Linked DNA regions of Homo sapiens. The protein of the gene in region 2 interacts with the protein of the main gene of each other region in a pairwise test. Each region holds a gene or a part of one and is shown on either strand. Other genes may lie near its edges. The genes, in order: EXOC1, TTC3, TESC, SPTAN1, NUFIP1, TAF1 and MDH1.

Region 1 (3,979 bases), on a different chromosome or scaffold from region 2:
GGAGGCTGGAAGTCTGAGATCATGGTGCCAGCATGGTCAGGTTCTGGTGAGGGCTCTCTTCCTGGTTTGCAGACAGCTGCCTTCTCATTGTGCCCTCCCACAGCAGAGGGAGAGTGAGCTCTGCTGTCTCTTCCTCTTCTTACAAGGGCATTGAGTCTATTGGATCAGGGTTCCTACTCTTCTGACCTCATTTAAACTTAATCGTCTCCTTAAAGACCCTATCTCCAATACAGCCACATGGGGGGTTAGGGCATCAACATAAAATGTTAGTAGGGCCACAATTCAGGATATAGCACATCTTTTGTTAGAGTTAGTCCTAAATACTAAACATCTTCAATATTATTATTTTTCTTATTTTTTTTTCAAGTGACAATATCTTGCTATGTTGCCCAGGATGGAGTACAGTGGCACAATCACAACTCACTCAAACTCTTGGGCTGGGGCAATCCTCCTGCCTCAGCTTCTCAAGTGGCTTAGATTATAGGCATGTGCCACCACAAAAAATTGTTCTTCTATGGAGACAGGGTCTCACTGTGTCGCCCAGACTAGTCTCAAATTCCTGGCCTCAATCAGTCCTCCCTCCTTGGCCTCCTAGAGTGCTGGAATTACAGGCATGAACCACTGCACCCGGCTTACTTTACTTATTATTAAACTTTTAAGTGTTTTGTGGTATATAAACTTGCAATTAATTTTTGTATATGGATTTTGTAAGAACTTGCTTTAATACAGAAGACAGCATATGATAGACCTAAAAATATTATCAAATGTCAACTTTTTTGAAAATTTATTTCACATTTATTACTAGTCACATAATCCTCAAAAATCTAAGTTCACAAATGATCATCACATGAGCCCTCTTCTCCATATACACATTTGTTAGTGTGAAAAAACAATTTTGTACAGTATTTTAGTAGTTACATGATTAGCAAGCAACAGAGAAGTAGTGAAAGCTGAAGAACTCCAAATGCATTGCTCATAGGACAACCACTCAAACACAAGCAGCTAGGCAATAAAGGAAAATTTCCCATCCAGTCATTGAGAAATGCTAAAGGCATTTTATGGTGACATGAATGCTTAAGTTAGTATGCAACCTATAGGGCAAATAAAACTGCTATATAGGTTGGTAATTTTGCATTTAAATATTTGTAGTATGGTACTACCCATTTATCTAACATTTAATAATACATAAAATTTTAAGTCTGGGTTCTCAAAACAGTTGCTTGGTATTTTGGTATAGTGTCTGTTATACTCAAATGCTTCATTCAGTTATCTTTTCTTCTTTCACAAGGTTTAGTGGGACTGTGCAATGCTGGAACAATAATCCAGAATGTCCTGAATAGTGAATTCCATTGTAACACCAGATCCAGGATAACAGCGAGCTATCAAACCTTCAAAGTGCTTATACTGGCGTATAAATTCATCTTGCATGGAGTGCCACACCACCTATTATTAAAAAAAAAAGTCATTAGGCTATGAATGGAAATAATATGTAATCTAGTATGCAGAAATAATGCCAAGGCATATTCTAAGAATTTGGGTAGTATAGTAGCTAGGAACATGCATTCTGAAACCAGAATCCCAGTCACTTTTACCTACAAGATTTGTAACCTTCAGTACATGACATCACTGCTCTATGCCTCAAGTTCCTCATCTATAAACCAAGATAATAATAAGACCTTCCTCATAATGCTGTGAGAATTAAATAAGAAATGTACATAAAGTGCTTCAAACTGCGTTTGACACAAGTAAGCACTCATGACATTTTAGCTATTATCTTATATACTCCAATATGCAACACAGATGTGGATATGCACAATTATGTATAGAACTAAGACTAGTGATTACATAAAATGTAATGCTTTAATTTCATTTCCTATAACATTTAAAGTTTTCTTTATCTAAAATTGTTGATGCAAAACCTTGCTTGATGCCTTGGAGGACAGCAAAATGACTCAGACCCATTATCTGCAATCATGTGATTTATAATCTAACAGTGGAGGCTAATATGTAGACAATTACCAAGACACAATGTGATACACACATTGACATAATGGCTTAAATAGATTACATTAATTGAAGCTTACTCTTTATCAGCACAGTACAAAGCACTTTATGAATATATTATAGTATTAAGTCTCATGATGACCTGGTGAGGGTGGGTATTATGATCATCTTCCCTATTTGACAGCTGAGGGAATGTATTCTTCCAAGATTTTTTCTTGTAAATCCTAAATCTCATAAATCCTAAATTCCTGCCAACTTAAGACCAATCGCTATTCCCTAAGCAGTGTTATGCTTTTTACTTTTCATCGTTTAGCTCATATTATTTCTTTCTAGAATGCTACTCCCTCCATCCCCACTTTGCCTGTTCAAGTACATCTGACTTTCAGAGGTTAAAACAAACAATGCAATATCCCTCAGGAAGTCTTCCATGATGTTGAAATCAGAATTACTCTCACTCATATCTGGGCCTTTCAATATGGTTTATAAAGAATAATGGCCTAATTTGGACTTTAAATCTGGCTCCACTACCCATTAGTTAAGAGAGCTTGGTCCTATTACTCCACCTCTCTAAGCTGATTTTCTTTCTTTCTCTTTCTTTCTTTTTCTTTCTTTCTTTCTTTTTTTTTTTTTTTTTAATTGAGACACGGCCTCACTCTGTTGCGTAGGCTGGAGTGCAGTGGTAGGATCATAGTTCACTGGAGCCTCAATCTCCTGGGCTCAAGTGATCCTCCTGCCTCAGCTTCCCGAGTAGCTGGGACTACAGGCACGTGCCACCATGCCCAGCTAATTTTTTTAATTTTTAGTAGAGACAAGGTCTTGCTATGTTGCCCAATACAGTGGCTACTGTACAAGAGATGTATCGTTTCCACTTATCAAATAAGGAAACTAAGGCTCAGAGAGGTTAAGTAACTTCCCAAAGTCACACAGCTTAATCTGGAGCCAGATTATGAACCCATCTCTAATTCCAACCACTCAACCAACCAACCAACCAACCAACCAACCAACCAAAGAAAAACAAACTTAATGCCTCACCATAATATAGCAGAAATACGAAATAAGCAGAAATAGCCATATATGCTTATATAAACAGTATTCCTTTCTTCCTCACAATTCATTAATCTGGTCTGTACTCTAATGGAACTCTCCTCCTGCTCTAGATCTGTAGCATTTCTAGAAAATTATTTAAAGAAAAGCAATATATGTAAGGATCTTTAAGTCAGATGGTCAAAAGAAGTAAGCATACCTGAAGTAAGTTCTCTTCTTCACATAAATGTTTATCAACTTTCTTGTAGAGGTTATCTAGACCTTTTTTTACTTCCTTTCCAGGGTACTCCTTAATGACTTTACGAAGTTCTTGTTTGTTAAATGCAAGTTGGTAACTTACTTCCTCCTCCCTTATGCCCTGTGCCACGCGAGCTTCAACACCTTCAAAGAAATGCTTCAAGGAAATGAAAAGAAACAATGGCTAAGACCTGCATTTATTATTATTTACATTAAAAAAATCTGATTACAAAGTAGTGTATAATCACCATGCAAAAATCAGTGTGTGAAAGTATAAACAATAAAATAACAATCACTTATTAACATACTTCTGAGATGAACATTGTTAATATTGTAGAGTTCCTTGTAATCTTTTGATGTGTGAATACATACAGGAGATTAAAATTTCATGTCCCACTTTACATTTAATATTGTTTTTTCCTAAATATAAATTTTAATGGCTGCATAATATTTCACACAATGACTGAACCACAATTATTATTCATTCCTCTAGTACTAGATATTTAACATCCCACTCCCCCTTCTTTTTTTGGACTTGGCAAATCTAGTGAGACTTTAGAAAATCTACTATAAATATATTTGTCATAAATTTTTTTTGTATATAAGTATTTACCCATCTTACTGATTAAATTTCCAGGACTATAATTACTCTGTTGAAGAGCATAACTTTAAGTATTTGAAAGATTCTTCAGTA
Region 2 (4,009 bases):
TCCCTAAGAAATCTAAAATTAGCACACATATACTTCTTCATGCCCAGTGCCACTGCCTTCACTGTTTCTCCTCTGAACTAATTTAACAAGCAGTCTCCTAACTGGTCAGACTTGCCTTCAATCTTGGCATCCTCTAAAACTCTGATCATATCACTTTACTGCTTAAAACCATGCAACAGCTTCCCTTCAGCTTGAGAATAAAGTCCAACTTCCCTAATATAAGCATAGAAGACCTTTTGTGATCTTGCTCCTGCTTTTATCCCCAGTCACTCCACAACACACAACCTAGAAGCCAGTCATACCCAACTGCTTGTCCTTCCTAAACAAAACTTATTCTGCAACCACCTAATGTCTATTAGTTCTTAATACTCAATTTCAGGAAGCATTTCCTGATCTTCCCACTACCATCAAGTTGATTTTTGCACCTCTTCTCTGTAAACAAGAGCACCCTGCCCATGTCTCTGACAGCAGTTTTCACATTGTTTGACCATCACAGGTTTATCTCTGCAGGGTCACTATGGATCCAGAGGATATATTGTGCAATCCATTTGCCATCTGTACTGCTATTTACTTAATACTTTTCTTTAGGATAACTCAAATCTTAACTTAGATGTAAACTAGTTTTAATGGAAATGTTGGTATCACCAAGAAAGCTTGCTTGGTACCATAAAATTTTTTATAATACAATCAAACAAAAATATACTACTAAAATTAAATATTAAAATAAAGAGCTTCTGATCCCATCAGTTATGGTCAACTATACACTCTGGGGGAATGTACTGTTGGGAGGAAAAAGGTATATCCTAGATTAAAAAAAAAAACACTTTTTGGATGTTTTTGCTGAGCTCATAGAAATAGGGGAACATGTGAAGGCACCCTCTCCACGCAAAAGCAACAAACCTTGAGCTAGAAATTAAACCTGGCTACAGTTTAGTGCTACAAGTAGTGGTGCCAAGAGCAGTAATAGGATCAGGACACTGAGCCCTGGGCCAGAAGCAAAATGTAGGAACTCAAAAGTGATGCCAGCTAAACTTTCTGGCTCCCAGACAAAGCTGATAGAAATGCTTTCAGAAAGCAAGCATCCTCAAATTAGACTCTCAAGATCACCACAAAGATCAAACAGAAGTTCATAATCAATGATCACCAAACACATGAGGTGACAGCTACATTGAGGAGAGACAACAGAAAAAAAAACAAAAAAGCAATAAATTTAGACATCCCCCTCCTCAAGGATATCAGACATTGGGAATGTCTGATATAGTCTACAGAATAGCTATAGAGTCACAAAAATCAGCATATAACATGAGAACATGAAGAATGACTGGACATATCAAAAAAGAACCAGGCAGAACTTTTAGAAATTAAAAATGCGGCCGGGCATGGTGGCTCATGCCTGTAATCCCAGCACTCTGGGAGGCCAACGTGAGCAGATGACGAGGTCAGGAGATCGAGACCATCCTGGGTAACACGGTGAAACCCCGTCTCTACTAAAAATACAAAAAAATTAGCCGGGCGTGGTGGCGGGCGCCTGTAGTCCCAGCTACTCGGGAGGCTGAGGCAGGAGAATGGCGTGAACCCGGGAGGCGGAGCTTGCAGTGAGCTGAGATCGCGCCTCTGCACTCCAGCCTGGGCGACAGAGAGAGACTCCATCTTAAAAAAAAAAAAAAAAAGTAATTAAAAATGCAATTGTTAAAAGAAAAAAAAGAGACAGGATGGGTTACAGAGGATATTAGGCACAGTTGAAGAGAAAATTGGTGAACTAAAATATATGCCTTATGAAATTATCCAGCACTGTAAATTCTGGTAAAGAGAAACAAAGAGATAAAAAATATGAAAGATAAAGAATAAGTGATCTGGAAACAGTTTAGTGTATATATATATCCAGTTAAAGTTCCAGCAGGAGAGAAGAGACTAATGAGACATAATATTTAAAGAATACAGGGCTCAGAAACTTCTAGATCTCATGAAAGACAAAATGCAGAATCATGAAACACATGCATCCAAAATAGGATAAATATAATCTCTATCTAGACTTAGAAGTGAAATGATGTAACACAAAAGACAGAAAATCCAATGTAACTAAAAGAAAAATGATATTTTCTTCAAAAAACGCATAAATAGGCTGGGTGCAGTGGCTCACGCCTGTAATCCCAGCACTTTGGGAGGCTGAGGCGGACAGATCACGAGGTCAAGAGATCAAGACCATCCTGGCCAACATGGTGAAACCCCATCTCTACTAAAAATACAAAAATTGGCCAGGCATGGTGGCAGGTGCCTGTAGTCCCAGCTACTTGGGAGTCTGAGGCAGGAGAATCGCTTGAATCCAGGAGGCGGAGGTTGCAATGAGCCAAGATGGCGCCACTGCACTCCAGCCTAACAACACAGCAAGACTCCACCTCAAAAAAAAAAAAAAAAAAAAAAAAAAAGGCATAAATAAAACTGGCAGCACACTTTGTATAAGCAACAGCAGAATAGTATTCCTACCCTACTGACAGAAAAGAAACACCAACCTACAATTGTACATCCATCAAAATGATCTGTCAAGAACAAAGGTAAAATAAAAATACTTTTAGATTTTTTTTAATATCTAAAACTGAGTCAAACACCAACCAAGACACCTGGAACATAACCAATTAAAAGACAGAAGTTGTCTGGTGAGATTAAAAGAAAAATCCAGTAGTATGTCCCTTATAAGAGACACTTAAAATGTAAGGACACTAAAAAAAATCAAAGTAAAATGAAAGAAAAGAATATTCCAGGTAAATTAGCACCAAAAGAAAGACGGGATCAGACAAAAAGCCTCTAAGACAAAGAAGCAAACTTAGAGAAGATCACAATATAGTAAAGGTTCGAGCCACTAGGAAAAAAATGTTAAGCTTGCATGTAGCTAATAAAAGTCTCAAAATACAGAAGAACAAAAATTGTTAGAACTACAGGAAATCTGTTAGAAACTAGTAATGGTGGAATATTGCAACACACTTCTCTCAGTTAATGATAGGATAAACCAAAATTAATAAGGATAAAGACTATCAGAACAACACAAATAACAAGCTTTACCTAATAGACACTTAACAATTACAGAATATATACTCTTCACAAGTGTACACAGAACAGTTCTAATAATTCACTATGTACAAGGCCATAAAGCAAGGGCAAAAAAAAAAAAATGCTAAAAAGATAAAATATTCTCTGGCAACACAAGTAAGAAATCGATAATTAAAGGAAAACAATATAGACACATTTGAAAATTTAAAAATGTCTAAGTAACTCATAAGTCAAAGAAAAAATCAAAATAGAAATTGTAAAAATACTTAGATTTGAAAGTTAATGAAAACACTATAAATTAAACTATGTTAGATAAGCAAAAATGAACTTTGAGGAAGTTTACAGTCTTGCATGCTTATACTAGGAAATCGGAATGGTTGAAAATTAATATTAAGTGTGTAATTTAAGTGAAAAAAATAGTAAAATAATAAACTGAAAGTAAAATGAAATAATAAAAGAGAAAAAAGATCAATGAAATAAAAAACAAATAATAGAACAAATTAGGCCAAAAGTTAATCCTTTGCCAAGATTTTAAAAATGGACAAACTTTTACTAAGACTGATCAAGAAAGAGAAGTCAGACATAAATAATATTCAACATGAGAAAAGGGGAACACATATACAAATAAAACAGAGATTAAAAAGAGAATTAATGCCATACCACGAGCGGTGGCTCACACCTGTAATCCTAGCACTTTGGGAGGCCGAGGTGGGCAGACCACTTGAGGTCAGGAGTTTGTGAAGAGCCTGGCCAACATGGTGAAACTCCGTCTCTACTAAAAATACAAAAAAATCAGCCAAGCATGGTGGCGCACGGCTGTAATCCCAGCTACTCAGGAGGCTGAGGCAGGAGAATCGCTTGAACTCAGGAGGCAGAGGTTGCAATGAGATGGCACCACTGCACTACTCCAGCCTGGGCAACAGAGGGAGACTCTATCTTAAAAAAAAAAAAAAAAAAAAAAAAA
Region 3 (4,009 bases), on a different chromosome or scaffold from region 2:
GAGGCCTGGAAGCCCCCATCCAGTCAAGGCAGAAAGGGTTCCAGAGGCTGGGGGGGTCCCATGATCTGGACCACTTTGTGGATGACTCCAGGCCAGGGTCTCCCCCCGCCCCAGAGCTCAGCATACAGGACTGGTCCTTCCCCCTGGTTTCACGGACACATTCATTCCTCCTCTGCTGAGGAGCCACTGTCTGAGGAGGGAGCCTGAGGTGGGAGGATCACTTGAGCCTTGGAGTTAGAGGCTGCAGTGAACTGTGATTGCACCACTATGCTCCAGCCTGGGCAACAGAGCAGGGCCATCTCAAAAACAAATTAATTTTAAACAATCAATAAAAGTAATTGTTTGAATCATTTTCTTACTGAGGCATGATTTCCATACAATGGAAAACACTTCACTGTTCAGAGACCCTAACAAGGGCAGAGGGCCCTCCCCAGAGGCACTCAGACAATTCCACATCCTATTTCATGGGGTTCATGGACTCCCTGAAGATGCCAGGGGAAAAGCCACAACCTAGCCCAGAGGAAGAGAAAAGGCACGGGGGACTGGCTGGTTGGCTGTTCAGCTTACCAAGCTTTGGCGGACGACAGAACAGTGTGGAGCTGGCTGGTCCACCCTGGCCCATCAGACCCTTCCTCCCGCTATGCTACAGTTGTTGGGGTGCTCCCCTGTCCCCCTGGAACCCCTGAGCTTCTGGAGGGCAGGGACCGCATCTGGTCCACCCTGGTAGCAGAATATGGCAATTGGTGAATGAGCCGAGGCCACCGTCTGAGGCCACTTAAAGACTTTAGAACCAAGAAGTATTACCCAGGGGCGAGAACGCAGTGGAGAAACCAGCGCCACCCCCACCAGCCACGCTTGGCTACGCCAGTCCTCCCTGCCATCTCTAGCTCCTTCTCCAAATGAGATTAGACCAGGAATGGAATCCGACTCTCTTTTTTTCTTTGGAGACAGTCTCGCACTGTCACCCAAGCTGGAGTGCAGTGGCACCAACTCCTGGGCTCAGGCGAACCCCCTGCCTTGGCCTCCCAAAGTGCTGGGATTACAAGCATGAGCCACCGCACCAGCCTGCGACTCTACTTCTCATTATGATGCCTGTGGCCTTGGGCAGGCACCTCCTCTCTTGAGCCTCAATGTCTGCATCTGTAAAATGGGAAACCAACCGTGTTCCTGGGAGGATTCCATCAGCTACTGCGGATACGCTGCCTGGCTCAGCTGAACGTGTGGCAGATGCCACGCGCCCGAGAAACATTAGCTCTTACCATCATGAGGTCTGAACTCTAGGTCTGGAGATTTTTTTTTTTTTTTTCCTTTTCCTTCTGGCAGCTTCTTGGCATCAACATAGACATGCCTGAAGAGCTGTTTTGGAGCCTGAAGGAAAAAACAGACCCTCCACCTTTCCCAGAATCCTCTGTCTTATTATTTCCTTTCCAACTCCAGGAGCAGACACGGATGGGGGGGACAGGAAGTGGGGCCAGCTCAAGGTGGTGAAGGACAACTGACTCAGGTGAATAATTCCCAAGAAGCCCTTCTCTCCGTCAGGTCCCACTTTGTACCTCGGTCCACACACCAGACACCACTTGGCTGCTGTCACCACGGGTGCGTGGGGAAGGTGAGCTCAATCACACCCCCGGGACGCCTTCGCTCGGGCTTTTCATATGAATCTTAACAATCTAGATGTGAGCCTTCTTGGCTCAGAAAAGATTCCTGGGAATACTCGTTTCCGGTTTAAATCAATCAATGAGACTCTAACAGGCAGGGAGAAGGAAGGTGGGCACGCAGACCTGATGATGCCCTGTGTGGCAAGCTGCTGCTCAGGCATATTTTTGGTGGGGCTGGGGAGATGCTGGGAGGGTTGGCAGCCGAGGACAGCTGGTGAGGGTGGCACTGGGTTTTCCAGTGGCTGCCTGTTCCTGAACAATACACCTTGAGTTTTAAAGTCCCCAGGGACTGTGCCCCTTTAACGTGAGCCTCTTATGCTCTCACTGAACCACCAAGTGCATACAAAGGTGAACAAGACACGTTCTTTCTGCTCTAGGGAGCTCCAAGTTTCGAAGGGGTGGCAGGTGACAGAGTTGACAAGTATAACATGGTGTGATGCCTGCTATTGCGGGCTCCAGGAGCGCTGAGGATGGGTGTTTAACCCTTAAAGGTCGGATGGAGAGATGGCTTTCTGGATGGGAGCAGCAGGTAAGCCAACCCCTGAACAATAATGAGCATTCGTTTCATAAAGAGACAGGGTTAACGCTGTGCGCGGTGGCTCACACCTGTAATCCCAGCACTTTGGGAGGCAGAGGCAGGCGGATCACTTAAGGTCAGGAGTTTCAGACCAGCCTGGCCGACATGGTGAAACCCTGTCTCTACTAAAAATACAAAAATTAGCCGAGCATGGTGGCGGGCACCTGTAATCCCAGCTACTCACGAGGCTGAGGCAGGAGAATTGCTTGAACCCAGGAGGCAGAGGTTTCAGTGAGCTGAGATCGCGCCACTGCACTCCAGCTTGGGCAACAAGAGTGAAAATTCATCTCAAAAAAAAAAAAAAAGAGAGAGAGACAAGGTTAAGAGGAAAGGTTTGAGTTTGTTTTTTCTTGTTTTTGTTTTTTGTGAGATGGAGTTCACTCTGTCGCCCAGGCTGGAGTACAGTGGCATGCTCTCAGCTCACCGCAACCTCCGCCACCCAGGTTCAAGCGATTCTCCGACCTCAGCCTCCCGAGTAGCTGGGATTACAGGCGTCTGCCACCGCGCACAGCTAATTTTTGTAGTTTTAGTAGAGACAGGGTTTCACTATCTTGGCCAGGCTGGTCTTGAACTCCTGACCTCATGATCTACCTGCCTTGGCCTCCCAAAGTGCTGGGATTATAGGCGTGAGCCACCACGCCCGGCCTAGACCTTACCCTGGGTGGAGACAGAGAAAGGCTCCCGTACGTAAACACCTGATTGTACACATCAAATGAAAACAGTGCTCCAGGCAGAGGAACAGCTTTTGTGCAAAGGCCTGAAGGTGAGAAAAAATACGGGAGTCTTTTCCTATCCCTTCTTGGTTCCTAGAAATTCAAGTGGCAGCTACACACAGTGAAAGCATGCTGGCAGTAAGAAAGCAGTCTTGGGGCCAGGCATGGTGGCTCATGCCTGTAACTCCAGCGCTTTCAAGAGGCTGAAGTGGGAGGATCACTTTGAGGCCAGGAATTTGAGACTAGTCTGATCAACATGGCAAGACCCCTGTCTCTACAGAAAAATTTAAAATTAGCTGGTGTGGTGGCGCACACCTGCAGTCATAGCTACTGGGAAGGCTGAGGTGGGAGGATCGCTGGAGCCCAGGAGTTCGAGGTTGCAGTGAGCTTGATCATGCCCCTTGCACTCCAGCCTGGGTGAGAGAGCAAGACCCTGCCTCAAAAACTAAAAATTAAAAAAAACTGTAAAAAAAGAAAGTAGGCTTGGGGATCCCATGATCTCCAACTCCTCCACTTAGCAGCTGTGGGACTGCAGGCAAGCTGGTTTACCTCTCTAAGCCTCAGTTTCCTCACCTGTAAAATGGCCCTAACACTGCCTTCCTGGGGGATCATTACTATAAAGAGTGTTATGCAGAGAGCACCAGCGTGGAGCCTGATGCTCAGCAGGTGCTTGGGGAATTATGTTCATTATCACCAGCCTCAGCCTGACCTTCTGGTCCTTTCTGGATGGTGTTCTCAGAAAGGGACCAAGCTGATTCCTCCCCAGAAAGTCAGGGGTCATCTTGGTCCTCAGGGAGGCGGGGGAGTCAGCAGCCCTGTGGGCTCAGTCTGTCCTCTGGCCACCTTACCCTGAGGCTTTTCTCCCTTTTTCTCAGGGAAGATTCCCAAGGGAATGGCCTTGGAGGAAGGGCCCTGCCTGACCCACTGGGTCTCTGGGAGCTGACGTTCCCATGCCAAGCCGATCGTCTCGCACGTAACCTTATCAAATCCACACAATGACTTCAGGATCCAGGTGGGGGTACTGAGGCTCAGAGAAGTAAGATGACTTGCCCAAGGTCATG
Region 4 (4,009 bases), on a different chromosome or scaffold from region 2:
TCCTTGTCAAAGTGTCTGCAGCACAAAGCCGAGGGCGGCTCAGCAGGCAGCCCTGCTGCCGAACACCCCCCACCCAGCCAGGGCGAGTAAGGCTGAACTCACTTAAACATCATGCTGAATTCTTTGAGGGCCTCCTCAGTCACACCTGTTGTGTTCCTGGAAGAAAAACAGAAATTAGGGAACAGACCCTCCACACAGCAGGTGACTGTGTCTTTTCCTCCCCCTGCTCTGGGCTGAGCCTGGCCCACAGCCCTCCCGGGTACCTGGCCTGGATCTGCTGCTCCAGGTTGTGCTGCATGCGCATGCCCAGCTGGTCCAGCTGGTCCCACTGCTGGGCGAGGCCCACGGTGCTGTGCTCCGTGTACTTGTTGTCCAGGATGAGGGCCTCCTCCATGGCGGCCCCCAGGTCCTCGATCTTTTTGAGCTGACTTCTCATGGCTCGGATTTCCTGGTGCTTGCGCTGCAGGGGTGGGGAGCACAGATGCTCAGACGGGGGCCCTCAGCTCAGTCACCAGCCCAGGAGCCACTTACTGCCCTCTGGTTCCTGCTCCAGGCCTGGCCTGAGACCTCGTAAAACAAGAACATTCTAGAATAGGAATAGTGGGATGGGGTGAAGCTGAAGAAATCCCAACCACCTCAATAGAGGGAGAGACTTTCAATGTGAGGGTTCCAAAGCAGCTGGTAGACCTGCCAGAGGGCAGTGCACGCCAAGGACAAGTACGGCGAGGACTCCAGGAAGCAGTGGCCAAAGATTTTTATAAATTTTTTTGAGATGGAGTCTCACTGTCGCCTAGGCTAGAGTGCAGTGGCGCAATCACGCTCACTGCAACCTCCCGGGTTCAAGTGATTCTCCTGCCTCAATCTCCTGAGTAGCTGGAACTAACAGGTGCCCATCACCACACCTGCCTAATTTTTGTATTTTTAGTAGAGGCGATGTTTCACTGCATTGACCAGGCTGGTCTTGAATTCCTAGGCTCAAGTGATCTGCCTGTCTTGGCCTCCCAAAGTTCTGGGATTATAGGCATGAGCCACTGCACCCAGCCTTATTTTTAAGACAAGGTCTTGCTATATATTGCCCATGCTGGACTTTGAGCAGGTGTAGGCCACCATGCCCAAGTAATTTTTTTCAGAGGGAGTTTTGCTCTTGTCACCCAGGCTGGAGTGCAATGGCCTGATCTCGGGTCACTGCAACCTCCGCATCCCAGAATCAAGTGATTCTCCTGCCTCAGCCTCCTGAGTAGCTGGGATTACAGGTGCCTGCCACCACACCCAGCTAATATTTTGTATTTTTAGTAGAGATGGGGTTTCCCCATGTTGGCCAGGCTGGTCTCGAACTCCTGACTTCAAGCAATCCACCCGCCTCGGCTTCCCAAAGTGCTGGGATTACAGGTGTAAGTCACCACACCCAGCCCCAAAGACTTTCTTTAAAGTGAAGAGCCCTCGGCCGGGAGTGGTGGCTCATGCTTGTAATCCCAGCACTTTGGGAGGCTGAGGTGGACAGATCACTGGAGATCAGGAGTTCCAGACCGGCCTGGCCAACAAGGCAAAACACTGTCTCTACTAAAAATATAAAAACTAGGCCAGATGTGGTGGCTCACGCTTGTAATCCCAGCACTTTGGGAGGCCGAGGCGGGCAGATCAGCCGAGGTCAGGAGTTCGAGACCAGCCTGCCTGGCCAACATGGTGAAACCCTGTCTCTACTAAAAATACAAAAATTACCCAGGTGTGGTGGTGGGCGCCTGTAATCCCAGCTACTTGGGAGGTTGAGGCAGGAGGATCACTTGAACCCAGGAGGTGGAGGTTGCAGTGAGCCAAGACCACGTCCATTGCACTCCAGCCTGGGCAACAAGAGTGAAACTCCATCTCAAAAGATAATTAAAAATAAACAAAAATTAGCCAAATGTGGTGGCACACATCTGTAGTACAGCTATTTGGGAGGCTGAGGCAGGAGAATTGCTTGACCTGGGAGGTGGAGGTTGCAGTGAGCCAATATCGCACCACTGCACTCCAGCCTGGGCGAGAGAGAGATTCCATGAAGAAAGAAAGAAAAGAGAGAGAGATAGTGAAGAGCCCTAGACTGCTTTAGGCCAAGGGAAAAGGGTACAATAATAGCACATCTGGTTCCTGACTTTAAGCCAGGAAGGGAAGGGGTACCCTGGGGGGTGGCTGGGTGAAGGGTCTCTGCTGGGCCAGAGCCCCACGGGCACTTACTTTGGTAGCTTCAAGCTGGGATTCGAGGGTCCCCGACTCTTCCACCATACAGGACCTAAACGTGGAAGGACAGTGAGGAAAGGGGCCTGCTCCCAGCTGGCCGAGAGCTCAGAATGAACCTTCTCTCAGAGAGAGCAATGCCTGGCAACCTCACATTCCTTTTAAGGAAACCAAACCTAACTGCAACTGGCCATCTTTACCTAATGGGCCCCAGGGATCGAGGGATGGCAGGGAGCATTTCTCCCGTTTTAGAGATGGGAAGCTGCTGCCTTGGTGTGGGCCAGGGCTGAGCCCACTCGTCTTGCTCCCAAGGCCAGGATGACTCAGGAATGGAGTTTAAATTCCCCCATGGGTGCAGGGTGGCTGCAGGCCTGTCTGAGCATCCTCTCTGCAGCCATGTGGGGGATGGCACACCCTGACACCTGACAGACAGGAGACCTCAGGGCAGAGGGGAGGCTGAGAACCTGACAGCCTCCCCACAGAAACCCTGGAGTGTCCCGGCAAGGTTCCTGAGGGAGGGAGCCCCATTCTAGGGGGAATGAGAGCACGACCCTGCAGACAAAGGACACAAGTGGAGTGCTGGGAGATCACGACCAACTGTGCCAAAAGGAGAGAGATGGCTGTGACTAAACCCCAGATCCCGGTTCCATCCTCTAGACACAGCCAGGGAGGGAGCCTCCTCTCTAGGACCAAGTTCTGAGAGCAGATGGGCTCTGGGGAGCCTCCTTCCCAAGAGAACACAGTGCCAGGTCACAGAGGCTACCAGTAAACAAAGACAACAAACGAGTTAGGGTTACGTGCAGGGACGAATCACACGGTGCGTGTGGCCTTGGTGGGGTTTTAGCCCAGGCTCCCCTGTACCCACATTCACCCCAACCTACCCTTTTAAAACCCGGCGAGCCAGGGTTAGCTCTGCAATCTCCCCAGGTTCAAAGTGCTCTAGCAAGGCAAGGCACCAGGCTTCCTCCTACCCCAGCAGGTCAGACTCACAGTCACGCCATGTCCCCCCGGGGAAAATGCCCCCCAGGACCTGGGGGCAGGAGGCTGGGTGCCGGTGCAGTGGGAGGACAGACCCCTCCTTCCCAAGCAGCCGAGGGCGGCAGGTTAGTCAGGGTGGAGCCGCCTGGGGATGTCAAGAGTGCATCAGTAAAGCCACAGTGAGGTAAGAAGAGAAATAAGGAGAAAAACCTTCCAGACAGATCATCCCCAACTTCATACTGATAGACACGAATGACCCGACGATATGCTATGCTATTCAAAGAAAAGAAACCAAATGAATACACCAAAGGGAGGGGAGGCAAGAGCACACTGCAACAGACACACACAAAGCCCAAGCTGGCAGGGCGCAGGCAAGGGCAACCTGGTGCCCGGCGGGTACCTGGAGGCAGCAGGCCCAGTGGTTCACCCCAGGCAGCTCACACTAGGAATGGGCAAGATGGGCAGGGCTTGGGAGGAGCCATAAGGTGAGGGGAGCGTGGCACCTCACGGAGACAAGAGCAAGACCAGCAGACACAGGCATGGGGCAGGGAGGGGAGTCAGGTGGCCAGGGTGTCCTACGGGCACAGGCCGGAAACTGCGATCCCTACGTCCCCAGCTGCTCTGCCATCAGAATGTGTGGCCCGGCTGGATGGGTCTATTTCTCCCCTGGCCGCCTATACAGGCTTGATGTGCCTGGGTGCAGAGCCTCAGGAGTGCAGGCCAAGCCACTCCAGTCCCAGCAGCCCTGGCTTTCACAGCAGGCTTGGCAGATTACAAAGGTGACCCGGCCAGGCAGAGGCCCCAGGCCAAGCAGAGAAGT
Region 5 (4,009 bases), on a different chromosome or scaffold from region 2:
GCACTCTAGGCTGGCCAACAAGAGCGAAACTGCATCTCCCCCGCCAAAAAAAATAAAATAAAATAAGAGACAGGGTCAGCTGGGCATGGTGGCTCACGCTTGCAGTCCCAGGACTTTGGAGGCTGAGGCAGGCAGATCGGTTGAGCCCAGGAGTGTGAGATCAGCCTGGGCAACATAGTGAGACCCCATCTCTATACAAAGAATAATTTTTTTAAAAGAGACAGAGACAGGGTCTTGTGCTGTTGCCTAGACTGGAGTGTAGTGGCATGATCATAGCTTACTGCAGCCTCAAACTCCTGAACTCAAGTGATCCTCCCACCTCAGCCTCCACAGTAGCTAGGACTACAGGTGCATGCCATCATGCCAAGCTAATTTTTAAATTTTTTTGTAGAGATGGGGTCATGTGAGGTTACCCAGGCTGGTCATGAACTCCTGGCCTTGAGTAGTTCTCCTGTCTCAGCCTCCCAAAGTGCTAGGATTATAGGCATGAGCCACCACGCCTGGTCCATATGCAAATTTTTGAGCCAGGTTGTGACAGGATTGGAGAATTTTTTTTTTTTTTTGGTGTCAGTATGTAAGGTTTGTTGGAAGAGGGGGCTTATGAACTGGAAGACAATATAGGAGTAATCTGGTGGAAGATCAGAATTTCTGACTTGGGGCATGGTAATAAGAATGGAAAAGTACAGTGGGATTTGAGAGGAGATATATTTCACAAGGTTCTGTTTTCCTGGTGCGAAATTGATGCTGAAGGAGCAGTGTTGGGGATTTTACTGGTTACATTTCTAATATTTGAAATAACCGAAGGAATTTCATCAGGTTAGGTTGTCCATTTCTGCACTTTGACGCCTAAAGTTTCTGTGGACATATAATCACACCAGTCTTTCTTTGTTTGAAAAATAGTCATTTGGTAGACTAATCTTAATCTTTGTTATTTTGTTTGAACTAGTATTCTTCCTAGAAGGGTAGTTTACTAGTGTTTTTACTGAAATATTTGTAACATGCTGTAGTAGATAAAATTTAATTATAATTTAAATAATTACATTGTTGCAAACATTTATGGATCTTTTTTTTTTTAGTTAAAAATTCTTATTATCCACGAAAGTATGATGCAAAATTCACAGACTTCAGCTTACCTCCCAGTAGAAAACAGAAAAAAAAGGTATTTGAAAGATGTTCTTGAATTTGACCCCTTGGTCCCTATGTTACTGTTTCATATCTTGCATTTCTGTCATAACTGTCTTCAGTGTTTTGCTTCCATTATTGACACAGTGGAGCCTTGCTATAAAAAGGAATTTTATGGTTAAACATGAATATAGCAAATTGGGATTCAAAAATAATACATAACTAAATTTTTGTTTCTTTTCTGTGGTTTTAGAAATAGATATATATTTGATACTTTTATTTTACCTTATTTTTTTTTAGATGGAGTTTCACTCTGTCGCCCAGGCTGGAGTGCAGTGGTACGATCTTGGCTCACTGCAACCTCCGCCTCCTGGGTTCAAGCAATTCTCCTGCCTCAGCCTCCCAGAGTAGCTGGGACTGCAGGTGCGCACCACCACACCTGGCTAATTTTTGTAGTTTTAGTAGAGTTGGGGTTTTACTGTGTTGGCCAGGCTGGTCTCGAACTCCTGACCTCAAGTGACCCGCCCACCTCCGCCTCCCAAAGTGCTGGGATTAAGGCGTGAGCCACCATGCCTGGCCATATAGTTGATACTTGAACAACGCAACAGTTAGAGGTGCAGTCAGAAGTTTGTGTGTAACTTTTGACTCCTCTAAAACTTAACTACTAATGGTCTACTATTGACTGGAAGTCTTACCAATAACATAAATAGTCGGTTAGTATAGAAATGAAATGGTGTCCACATATATTTTATACCTTCTTGACATACTTTTTTTTTTGATATTTCTAAGGCTATGTGGTTTATCTGTGAGTTTTTCCAAATTGTCACAAATCTCCAAAAAAATTTTCCAATATATTTACTGAAAAAAATCCTTTTATAAGTGGACCCTTGCAGTTCAAACCTGTGTTGTTCAAGGGTCAGCTGTAGTTATTTTTTTCTAAAAGATGAGCTGCTGTTTTTATTCTATTTATTTTCAGATCATTTCAACATATTCTGTACTGAGTCTTAATTAGATAACCAATTTGCAATCTGCTCATAATTTATATTAGCACTATTTGGATTAAAAAAGTTTAAAATTATGCCTGGGTTTCACTAATATATTTGTTAAAAACAAAATGAAAGAAAGAAATAGAATAATCTCTTCATTGGAAATATACTCACAAGCTTCTCCCACACGAAAGGGTTATTGGAAACATCAAAGTGTGTATTACTAGAATGATAGTTATGTTTTTATTATTGATTACAGATTTTTCACCAAAAGCCTAATTCCTCTCTGTTTTTGTTTGCAGAAAAGAAAGGAACCAGTTTTTCACTTTTTTTGTGATACCTGTGATCGTGGTTTTAAAAATCAAGAAAAGTATGACAAACACATGTCTGAACATACAAAAGTAGGTTTTCTTAGTTGTCCTGAAACTGATGTAGCAATTGTGCTTCTTCTATCTGTATATTTGGTAGAAATGCCAAGCTTGTTTTCCTTTAAAGTTTATAGTTTCTGTAGAGATATAGTTTGACAACTTGACAGATAGGGGCAGTGACCCTGGGGTTTGAAAGTGGGGATCCCGCTGCTTCAGGGACGAGGTAAGATGGTAGCAAAGAAGGGAGCTCTGACAGCTTTTTGTATGTGTGTACCTCTACTGCTTGGGAAGAGGCTGTCCTCTCCTCTAGTTACCTTGTGCATCTTAATGAGTTCTTTCCCCTTTAAGTCTGCCCTTGACCATTAAACCATACTGTGTAATGTGGCTGTGCCTATCACCCTCAAAGGCTGGTCCACACCTTGTCAGGTACTAGCTAGAAAACTTTAACCAAAATGTTTAAAAGGTTTAAAAGGAAGCCTTTGGTTTTGAAAGGTTCTTTTTCTGTTTTTGGGAATGCCCCTCAACTTTAGGAATTAAGAGCATTTCACAGGTTTATTGATGTATGCCTTTGCTCAAATGGAGAAGTAAATAAGATATATTATTGTGCCACATACTCTGAGAGTGTCATTCCTTTGCCTAAAGGCAGCCCTGTTTTGGAGTCATTTTTGTATGCAGAGATAATACTATACAGATGGGATAACTATGTAATACAGCCAGAATATGTCTGTGTATGTATAGTGGGGTAAATTTAACATGGAAAACATTTGTTAAATAGTTTTTTTTTTCTTTTAAAAACTCATAGTGCCCTGAATTAGATTGCTCTTTTACTGCACACGAGAAGATTGTCCAGTTCCATTGGAGAAATGTAAGTTCTGTTTTTTTATCCTATTTTTAAATACATGCTCTTTTTATTGATCTGTTATCTTCACAACTGTTTATTTATATACCTAATAATAGGTAACACTAATGGAGTACTTTGTAAGGATTTTGACATCATTTATTCAACTTTTTCCTCACAAACAACTATGGTTGTTTATATTGGCCCCATTTAAAATATTTTAAAAAATGAATTGCCCAAGGCCTGAGAATTGATTCTTGGACCTCAGTTTCTTGACTCCAAATTGTATACTGCTTTACTACACCATGCTGCTACAGATTGTCACGTCTACTCATATCTTTAGTGGCCTCTCTAGGTTTTGATTGGTAAGTCATTCATTTGGGTGTTTAATGTCATTTGAGAGAATGGGTGGCATATCTACTTTGTAATCAAAATTATGTTACCCCTTTTCCCTCTATTAATAGCACTAATTAAATACATGATAGATTCTTCTTCCTTTAAAGGAAAAGTTATAACACAAATAGATACAACCTGCTTACTTGGTTTTAAAATTGTGTCCAACATAAGTTTACTTGTAGAAACAAAGTCTCCAAGTTAGTCAAAAGCATATGATATTGCCTCCTGATGTTCAGCAGGCTTTTTCCCCCTAGATGCATGCTCCTGGCATGAAGAAGATCAAGTTAGACACTCCAGAG
Region 6 (4,009 bases), on a different chromosome or scaffold from region 2:
TCTCAAATGCCTAACAAAAGTAAAAACACAAAAATTATATACAGAGTAGCCCTAGGAAATTCAGTCAACTGCTGAGAAAGAAATACCAAGCTTATTGCTCTCCATCTTAATTACGCCATCTAAGGTCTATCCAGTAATACAAATAAATTAAAATATAGATTATCAAATGTGACTAAACAATTTTTCATCCACTATCTTTCAGAGTCAGTAGGGGAGAAAATACAGGATGTGAATTCAGATGATGCTAGCTCTGCCATTACCTCTATGATTTAACATGTCTATTTAAGCTATTTAACATGTCTAAGTTTAGTTTTCCTCATCTACAAAACAGAGATACTTAAAAATGCCTATACCTCACAGGACTGCTATGAAGATTACATATGAAAATCACTTCATAATGTACCAAGTACTATACTACTACCCTAGACCCCAGTGTAGCCCAACACACAACGTGTGAGAGCAACATTTGTTGAATAAATTATTAAACTAATTAAAAAACAAAACAACGCCGGGCACAGTGACTCATGCCTGTAATCTCAGCACTTTGGGAAGCCGAGGCAGGTAGATCACTTTACCTCAGGAGTTCAAGACCAGCCTCGGCAACATGACAAAACCCCATCTCTACAGAAAATACAATAATTAGCTGGATGTGGTGGCGTGCGCCTATTGTCCCATCTACTTGGGAGGCTGAGGTAGGAGGATGGCTTGAGCCCAGGAGGCAGAAGTTGCAGTGAGCCAAGATCGTGCCACTGCACTCCAGCCTGGGTCACAGAGCCAGACCCTATCTCCAAACAAATAAATCATAAAACAACCAATGAGGTAGAAAGAGTGCTAGACAGAATAGGCTGGGAAAAAACAAAAGGAAAACACAAGACAGTAGGACAGAGGACAGCTGAACAGAAACATTTGAGCCAGTTTAAGTAGAGGCAAGATAGGGATAAACTGTCACAAGAAGCCTGAGTCTAAGGAAAGCCTTCCCCGAAAATCAGAAGAGTAGACAGAAAGAGGGAAGACCATCACTGAGTGTGGAAAGAAAATTCTACATGTGAAATATAGGCAGAAAAAGAATTACAGAAGAATACAGAAAAAGATCTTTTTTTTTTTTTTTTGAGATGGAGTTTCGCTCTTGTTGCCCAGGCTGGAGTGCAATGGCGCGATCTCGGCTCACTGCAACCTCCACCTCCCGGGTTCAAGTGATTCTCCTGCCTCGGCCTCCCGAGTAGCTGGGATTACAGGCATGTGCCACCATGCCCGGCTAATTTTGTATTTTGAGTAGAGGCAGAGTTTCTCCATGTTGGTCAGACTGGTCTCGAACTCCTGACCTCAGGTGATTCGCCCACCTCGGCCTCCCAAAGTGCTGGGATTAACAGGCGTGAGCCACCACGCTCGGCCAGAAAAAGATCTTTAAGAGACTACAAAAGTAGCCACAAAAGAAGAGGCTGAATTGGTAGAAAACCTCAACAGAAAGTTCCAGGGAAAGGAGAAGAACAATACAAAGATGATACTAAACATCCGGTTAGCAATAGACTATGAATGTAAAGGATAAAGAAAAAAACTGAGCTTTGCAGATGCTTTAGGAGAATAAACAACAACAACAGTAGAATAAACTAGGTATAAGAGTAGGACAAATGGTTAAGATTGCCAAGAGAAATGAAATGGAGAAAAAAAACAAGATGGGAGAGTGCTAGAGATTTTCCACATCATTTGTGGACCATCATACTTCCCCCCTTGAATATATAAAAGCTGTTATAAGAGAGCCTCTTTACACCCATTAGAACAAAGGAGGGAAAAAAAAAGCATTTCACTATGGCTGGGGACTGTAGATGGCACAGTTCAGGTGTGGTTCAATATTCACAATAACCACAGCTAATGTGATCAAAATGTTATCAATTTTATACACAAAAATTAAATATTCATAAATTATAGTAAATTTATAGTAAATTCATCCTAGGTTGACTTCCTTATGCTTCCCAGATGTTACTGAGCTTACCAGTGTGTATTTTTAAAAACCTATTTTACATTTAGCCTGAGAATAACACAATTCACAGCCAGTTTTAAGAAAAAGATTTCTTTAAAACATTTTTGGATTATACTTATTTTCTTTGTACTTAAAATTAAAGCATCTCAATCAACTAGAATTATAATAGTTCTTTCTGAGCTGACTGGTTCCTCATTTATCAATTTCCTTAGTTAACAGTAAAAACAGGAAAGAATTCCTCACTTGCAGCAATTGGCCAGGATGGAGAGAACCCAGGAAAGGAGATGTATGGCAGTAAACAGTTTCCCCATATTTACAATCTGGTGCTCCAGGATCTTTTCCAGGTTTCTATAAGGAACACAGAAGACCCAGTTATTTAGAATATATCAATAATCCTACACAATATGACCATAGCACTTTACTAATACAGGTTGAGTATCCCTCATCCAAAATGCTTGTGACCAGAAGTGTTTCGGATTTTGGAATAGTTGCATTATACTTACCAGTTGGGCATCCCAAATCTGGAAATCCAAAATGCTCCAATGAGCATTTGAGTATCATCATAGTGCTCAAAAAGTTTAGGATTGGCCGGGCATGGTGGCTCATACCTGTATCTCAGCACTTTGGAAGGCCAAGACGGGCAGATCACGAGGTTAAGAGATCGAGACCATCCTGGCCAACATGATGAAACCCTGTCTCTACTAAAAATACAAAAATTAGCTGGGTGTGGTGGCACACGCCTGTAGTCCAGCTACTCAGGAGGCTGAGGCAGAAGAATTGCCCAAACCCAGGAGGTGGAGGTTGCAGTGAGTGGAGATCATGCCACTGCACTCCAGCCTGGCAAAAGAGCAAGATTCAGTCTCAAAAAAAAAAAAAAAGTTTTGGATTTTGATTTCGAATTTTGAGATTTGAGATGCTCAACATGTTATAACTACAAAAAAAGGTACCACTCCTTTCTCCCAAGAAATTTATGGTATATGTTCACAGATTACCAGTAGATCTCTAACTACAGCTACGTTAATAATAAAAAATTTGTATGTAAGTTTGCAGTTTGTCTCACTACAGCTATGTTAATAACAAAAAGTTTGTACATAAAAGTTTATGGAAGCATAAGCAGAATTATGTATGGGAAAAAAATTTTCTGAGCAGAGACTCACCCGTTTATAATAGTTCTTTATCTTGGTTGCCATGCCAACCTGCATCATTAAGGGTCCATTTTCCTCACTATATTCTGCAAGAATAAGATCACCATCTTTGCCTGTGAGGTCCTGAGGTGTGCGCATAAAAAACATCTCTCCACCACCTGAAGCTTGCCTCTCTTGTTCTCTCATCTGTCCAGAACAAAGAAAATACCATCTAGCTCCTGACAGGACACTACTACACACAATGACGTTGTTCAATCTGAGACAAACACACCAAAAACATTTTACCTATTTTCCAATTTCATAATCAAAATTTTCAAACATACTGTAAAGTTCAAAGAATAGTACAGTCGGCCCTCCATATCCATGTATGGGTTCTGCATCCGTGATTTCAACCAACCATAGATAGAAAATATTCAGAAAATACAAGTGCATCTGTGCTGAACAGGTACAGACTTTTCTTGTCATTATTCCCTAACCAATAACAGTGTTAACAACTATTCACATAGCATTTACATTGGAGTAGGTATTATAAGTAATCTAGAGGTGATTTAAACTATAGGAGAGGATGTGCATAGGTTATGTGCAAATATTATGCTATTTTATCAGAAACTGGAACATCTAAAGATTTTGGTATCCAGAGAAGGTCCTAGAACCAATCTCCCAGAGATAACGAAGGACGACTGTACTATGAACACTTATTATCCCACGTCGCTGTTTATATTTCGCCATTTTTTTAAACTTTTATCTTTCTATAGACTTTGCTGGACAGTTTTTGAAAGATGCAGTCATTCTGACACCTCACCTTTAAATATTTTCACATGCATCACCTAACAATAAAGACATTCTCCTAAATAACCAAAATAACATTCTATCACATCTGAGAAAA
Region 7 (4,009 bases), on a different chromosome or scaffold from region 2:
GTCGAGTCATTGCAGACATTTTAGGTAATGGCCTTTTTTTTCATCTTTATCCTTTTCGGTTGGTTGGTTGGGGTTTTTTTTTTTTTTTTTTTTTGCTTTTTATTTTGAAATAATTTTAGACTCAAAAGTCGCAAAAAAATAGTACAGAGAAGGCCCATGTACCCATCACCCATTGATGGTACCTTACATAACTACAGAGTATTATCAAAACCAGGAAGTTGATGAACTACACAATACTATTAACTAGACTTACTGAAGTTTCACCAGTTTTATATTCACTTATTTTTTTCTGTGTCTTTATGAATGATTCTATGACATTTAATTACAAGTGTAGATTCCTGTAACTGCCCCCATAGTCAAGGTACAGAATTTCTTCATCACTCACAAAAGAACTCCTTCATACTCTCCCTTATGGTCACACCACCCTCTGTCCCTGACATCATTTTTCTGCACTCCACCTCTATAATTTTGTCATTTTGAGAATTTACAAAAGTGGAATCATGCAGTAAGGAACCTTTTGAGACTGGCTCTTTTTCACTCAGTTTAATGCCTTTAAGATCCATCCAGGTTGTTGTTTGTTTCTTTTTGTTGTTTTTCCACTTACCCCTTTTATTTATTCCATTGCCTATGTAAGACATAATACAGTTTATTTAACCGTTCTTTTTTTTTTTTTTTTTTTTTTTTTTTTTTTTTTTTTTTTTTTGAGACAGAGTCTCGCCCTGTCGCCTAGGCTGGAGTGCAATGGCACGATCTCGGCTCACTGCAACCTCCGCCTCCCAGGTTCAAGAGATTCTCCTGCCTCAGCCTCCTGAGTAGCTGGGATTACAGGCACACGCTGCCACACCCAGCTAATTTTTGTATTTTTAGTAGAGACGGGGCTTCACCGTGTTGGCCATGATGGTCTCCATCTCGACCTCCTGATCCTCCCACCTCGGCCTCCCAAAGTGCTGGGATTATAGGTGTGAGCCACCGCGCCTGGCATATTTAACCATTCTTGAACGACATTTGAGTTGTTTCAGTTTGGAGCTGTTATTACCCTTATTTTAAAATTTTCCTTAAAATATCAAAGTGTATTCCTTTTCTTACATGGTAAATACTCAAATGCTTTATTTATGTGTGCTAAAGCTACAGACTCTGGCACAACTAGTTTCTTCTCCCATTCTTTTTGGGACACAGAGGAAGGAAGAATTGCCCACAATGTCACCAAAACAGATCAGCTTCTTAAAATATTTTTCCACATTCCCTTCTGGTTCATCATAAATTCTGTTGTCTAGTTAGGAACAAATTATACATATACCTGATCATAATTTATTTTCTGCACATAAACTTATCAGACAAATAACAAGCAGGCTGATTTTATTTAAATCTACCAAGACATTTCTTTTTTTTTTTTTTTTTTTTTTGAGACAGTCTCGCTGCATCGCCCATGCTGGAGTGCAGTGGTGCGATCTTGGCTCACCGCAACCTCCGCCTCCCAGGTTCAAGCGATTCTCCTGCCTCAGCCTCCCAAGTAGCTGGGATTACAGACATGTGCCACCAAGCCCGGCTAACTTTGTATTTTTAGTAGAGACAGGGTTTCTCCATGTTGGTCAGGCTGGTCTCGAACTGTCAACCTCAGGTGATCTGCCCGCCTTGGCCTCCCAAAGTGCTGGGATTACAGGCGTAAGCCACCATGCCCAGCCCAAGACATAACTTTCTAACCTTTTTTGTGGCTACTGTACTACATGTGATTGCAAGGCATTGCAGGACCCTAAAGTGCTTTCTGGAGTTATAGCTAGAGATTGTTACATATGTTATAATTTTAGAGTGTATATATGTGTGTACACACACACACATACACATATATAAAACCTCTTTCCTTCAGTTTCCTGATATATAAAATGAGGACAGTCATATCTTGGTAATTTGAGTCCTATCCAACTCTAAAATTTCATATTTAGGGTTATTTGAAAATTAATTTCTATATGGTATATAATAAAAATTTTACCTAAATATAAAGTGCCTAAATACCTGATTACTCAGAAGCACTGAGAAGACATCTCCAAGTAAACATTAACAGTGAAACAAAAGATCACATTTACATATTCAAGAAATAGTAAATTGATAAATAATAGTAACGATTAATGTTTTATGTTTGATACACCTACTGTACTAATAAGTTAACCACAAACTATGGGATGCTTCATACCCTTAAACATTCTACTCCATAAGGTTTCAAGTCCACAGTTGTTACCACTGTTAAGCTGTTGTAGGAAATTGCCAAGCAATAAATTTACATTTTTTACAAGTCAATATAACTCTTGTGTTCTCTTGAAATTTCAGAAGCTTTTTATCTTTATTTAAGGGCATTTGTCAAAACAGGTCCCAATTGGAAATAAAAACCATTTGTCTCAGTAATGTATTTGTTTTCAATTTAACTAGATTGCTCTTAAACTTGGTGTGACTGCTAATGATGTAAAGAATGTCATTATCTGGGGAAACCATTCCTCGACTCAGTATCCAGATGTCAACCATGCCAAGGTGAAATTGCAAGGAAAGGAAGTTGGTGTTTATGAAGCTCTGAAAGATGACAGCTGGCTCAAGGGAGAATTTGTCACGGTAAGAAAAATCTGTGAGCCTTCTTAACACTGAGCGTAAAGAACTCTTGAGAGACTCTTAGGACAGAAAACCTTAAAGAGGGCAGGTCTTTCACAGTTGCTCTGATGACTGCATACTTTCGGGATCATAGTAAGCCAGTCATGATCTAGTGTGATCTGATGTGACAGCAGTTGAGATTTATACCAAGATCCATGTCTTTGTCTGACCTATGATAAACTTTGTATGGAGATACATAGTTTCCTTTTTCCAGAAGGATTGGTAAGGCTGACATTGGGTTGTTGCATGATTTTGGAGGGGAAACATTAAGCTCTGGTCATAGCTTTTCACCCCAAGGTCGACTTGGAATTAATGAAAACTTTGCTATCATGACCAAGTAATACTGCTGCCTTCACCTGCCCCCTTCCCAGACTGTGCAGCAGCGTGGCGCTGCTGTCATCAAGGCTCGAAAACTATCCAGTGCCATGTCTGCTGCAAAAGCCATCTGTGACCACGTCAGGGACATCTGGTTTGGAACCCCAGAGGTAAGGATTTAGTGATTTGCACAGGTCACTCTATTTTATTTTTGTTGCCTGATGATATAATATAAAAAGAATATAGCCTTAGCAGTCAGTCAGGTTAGGTTCATTTCTCAGCTCAGCTGCCTATTAACAAGTAAACTTCGGGGTTTGTTAGCCTTGACCTTTCTGAGCTGTTTTGTCATCTTTTACATGACATTACTATTATACACAGGGTTGTGAGGGTTAAAGGAGATTGCACATGGAAAACACCTGGCACAATGCCTGATACATAGTAGGGGTGAATTTTTTTCTTCTATGCCACAGCTTCCTCATCTGTAAAATGAGGATTAGGTTTCCCTGGCCTACTTCACATATGATATGGAAGCGTGGAATGAAATAATATCCATGAAAGTTACCTTGTCACCAGTACCTGGTGCTGATGATAGTTCCTTACACAGTAATGATGTTATGAACATAGTAAGAAAGGGTCACCTGGTTTAATTTTATTAGTTCATGTGTCAGTTGTGTAAACTAATCATCATGAGTATGTGAAACATTGTTATTTTCAGGGAGAGTTTGTGTCCATGGGTGTTATCTCTGATGGCAACTCCTATGGTGTTCCTGATGATCTGCTCTACTCATTCCCTGTTGTAATCAAGGTAAGGTATTTTGGAGCTATTTCCCTTCTTTGAGGAAGTAGTTATATGTTTCTCTTAAGAATGGTATTATTGGCCAGGCACAGTGGCTCACGCCTATAATCCCAACACTTTGGAAGGGCAAGGTGGCAAGATTGCTTGAGCCCAGGAGTTCAAGACCAGCCGGGGCAACATAGTGAGACCCCCTCTCTGCAAAAATAAAATAATTAGCCGGGCATGGTGGCACACATCTGTGGTCCTAGGTTCTTGAGAGGCTGA

The links.
Region 1: the proteins of TTC3 (region 2) and EXOC1 interact in a two-hybrid assay, tested with the Homo sapiens proteins (one large-scale study listed by IntAct).
Region 3: the proteins of TTC3 (region 2) and TESC interact in a two-hybrid assay, tested with the Homo sapiens proteins (one large-scale study listed by IntAct).
Region 4: the proteins of TTC3 (region 2) and SPTAN1 interact in a two-hybrid assay, tested with the Homo sapiens proteins (one large-scale study listed by BioGRID and IntAct).
Region 5: the proteins of TTC3 (region 2) and NUFIP1 interact in a two-hybrid assay, tested with the Homo sapiens proteins (one large-scale study listed by BioGRID and IntAct).
Region 6: the proteins of TTC3 (region 2) and TAF1 interact in a two-hybrid assay, tested with the Homo sapiens proteins (one large-scale study listed by BioGRID and IntAct).
Region 7: the proteins of TTC3 (region 2) and MDH1 interact in a two-hybrid assay, tested with the Homo sapiens proteins (one large-scale study listed by BioGRID and IntAct).

Annotation. Positions count from the first base shown.
Region 1 is NC_000004.12:55,901,807-55,905,785, reverse strand, and holds the end of EXOC1 (exocyst complex component 1), read right to left. Parts: intron 3,443-3,979; coding exon 3,248-3,442; intron 1,444-3,247; coding exon 1,291-1,443; 3' UTR 700-1,290; downstream 1-699.
Region 2 is NC_000021.9:37,079,527-37,083,535, reverse strand, and holds part of TTC3 (E3 ubiquitin-protein ligase TTC3), read right to left. Parts: intron 590-4,009; exon of another isoform or gene 1-589. UniProt on the Homo sapiens protein: E3 ubiquitin-protein ligase which catalyzes the formation of 'Lys-48'-polyubiquitin chains. Mediates the ubiquitination and subsequent degradation of phosphorylated Akt (AKT1, AKT2 and AKT3) in the nucleus.
Region 3 is NC_000012.12:117,092,492-117,096,500, forward strand, and holds part of TESC (calcineurin B homologous protein 3), read right to left. Parts: intron 1,198-4,009; exon of another isoform or gene 1,183-1,197; coding exon of another isoform or gene 1,161-1,182; intron 1-1,160. UniProt on the Homo sapiens protein: Functions as an integral cofactor in cell pH regulation by controlling plasma membrane-type Na(+)/H(+) exchange activity. Promotes the maturation, transport, cell surface stability and exchange activity of SLC9A1/NHE1 at the plasma membrane.
Region 4 is NC_000009.12:128,628,578-128,632,586, reverse strand, and holds part of SPTAN1 (spectrin alpha chain, non-erythrocytic 1), read right to left. Parts: intron 3,463-4,009; coding exon of another isoform or gene 3,400-3,462; intron 2,267-3,399; coding exon 2,212-2,266; intron 461-2,211; coding exon 264-460; intron 157-263; coding exon 103-156; intron 16-102; coding exon 1-15. UniProt on the Homo sapiens protein: Fodrin, which seems to be involved in secretion, interacts with calmodulin in a calcium-dependent manner and is thus candidate for the calcium-dependent movement of the cytoskeleton at the membrane.
Region 5 is NC_000013.11:44,979,222-44,983,230, reverse strand, and holds part of NUFIP1 (FMR1-interacting protein NUFIP1), read left to right. Parts: intron 1-1,076; coding exon 1,077-1,159; intron 1,160-2,410; coding exon 2,411-2,509; intron 2,510-3,278; coding exon 3,279-3,341; intron 3,342-3,964; coding exon 3,965-4,009. UniProt on the Homo sapiens protein: Binds RNA.
Region 6 is NC_000023.11:71,383,262-71,387,270, reverse strand, and holds part of TAF1 (transcription initiation factor TFIID subunit 1), read right to left. Parts: intron 3,310-4,009; coding exon 3,136-3,309; intron 2,327-3,135; coding exon 2,222-2,326; intron 11-2,221; coding exon 1-10. UniProt on the Homo sapiens protein: The TFIID basal transcription factor complex plays a major role in the initiation of RNA polymerase II (Pol II)-dependent transcription.
Region 7 is NC_000002.12:63,602,275-63,606,283, forward strand, and holds part of MDH1 (malate dehydrogenase, cytoplasmic), read left to right. Parts: intron 1-2,421; coding exon 2,422-2,598; intron 2,599-3,005; coding exon 3,006-3,119; intron 3,120-3,664; coding exon 3,665-3,754; intron 3,755-4,009. UniProt on the Homo sapiens protein: Catalyzes the reduction of aromatic alpha-keto acids in the presence of NADH. Plays essential roles in the malate-aspartate shuttle and the tricarboxylic acid cycle, important in mitochondrial NADH supply for oxidative phosphorylation.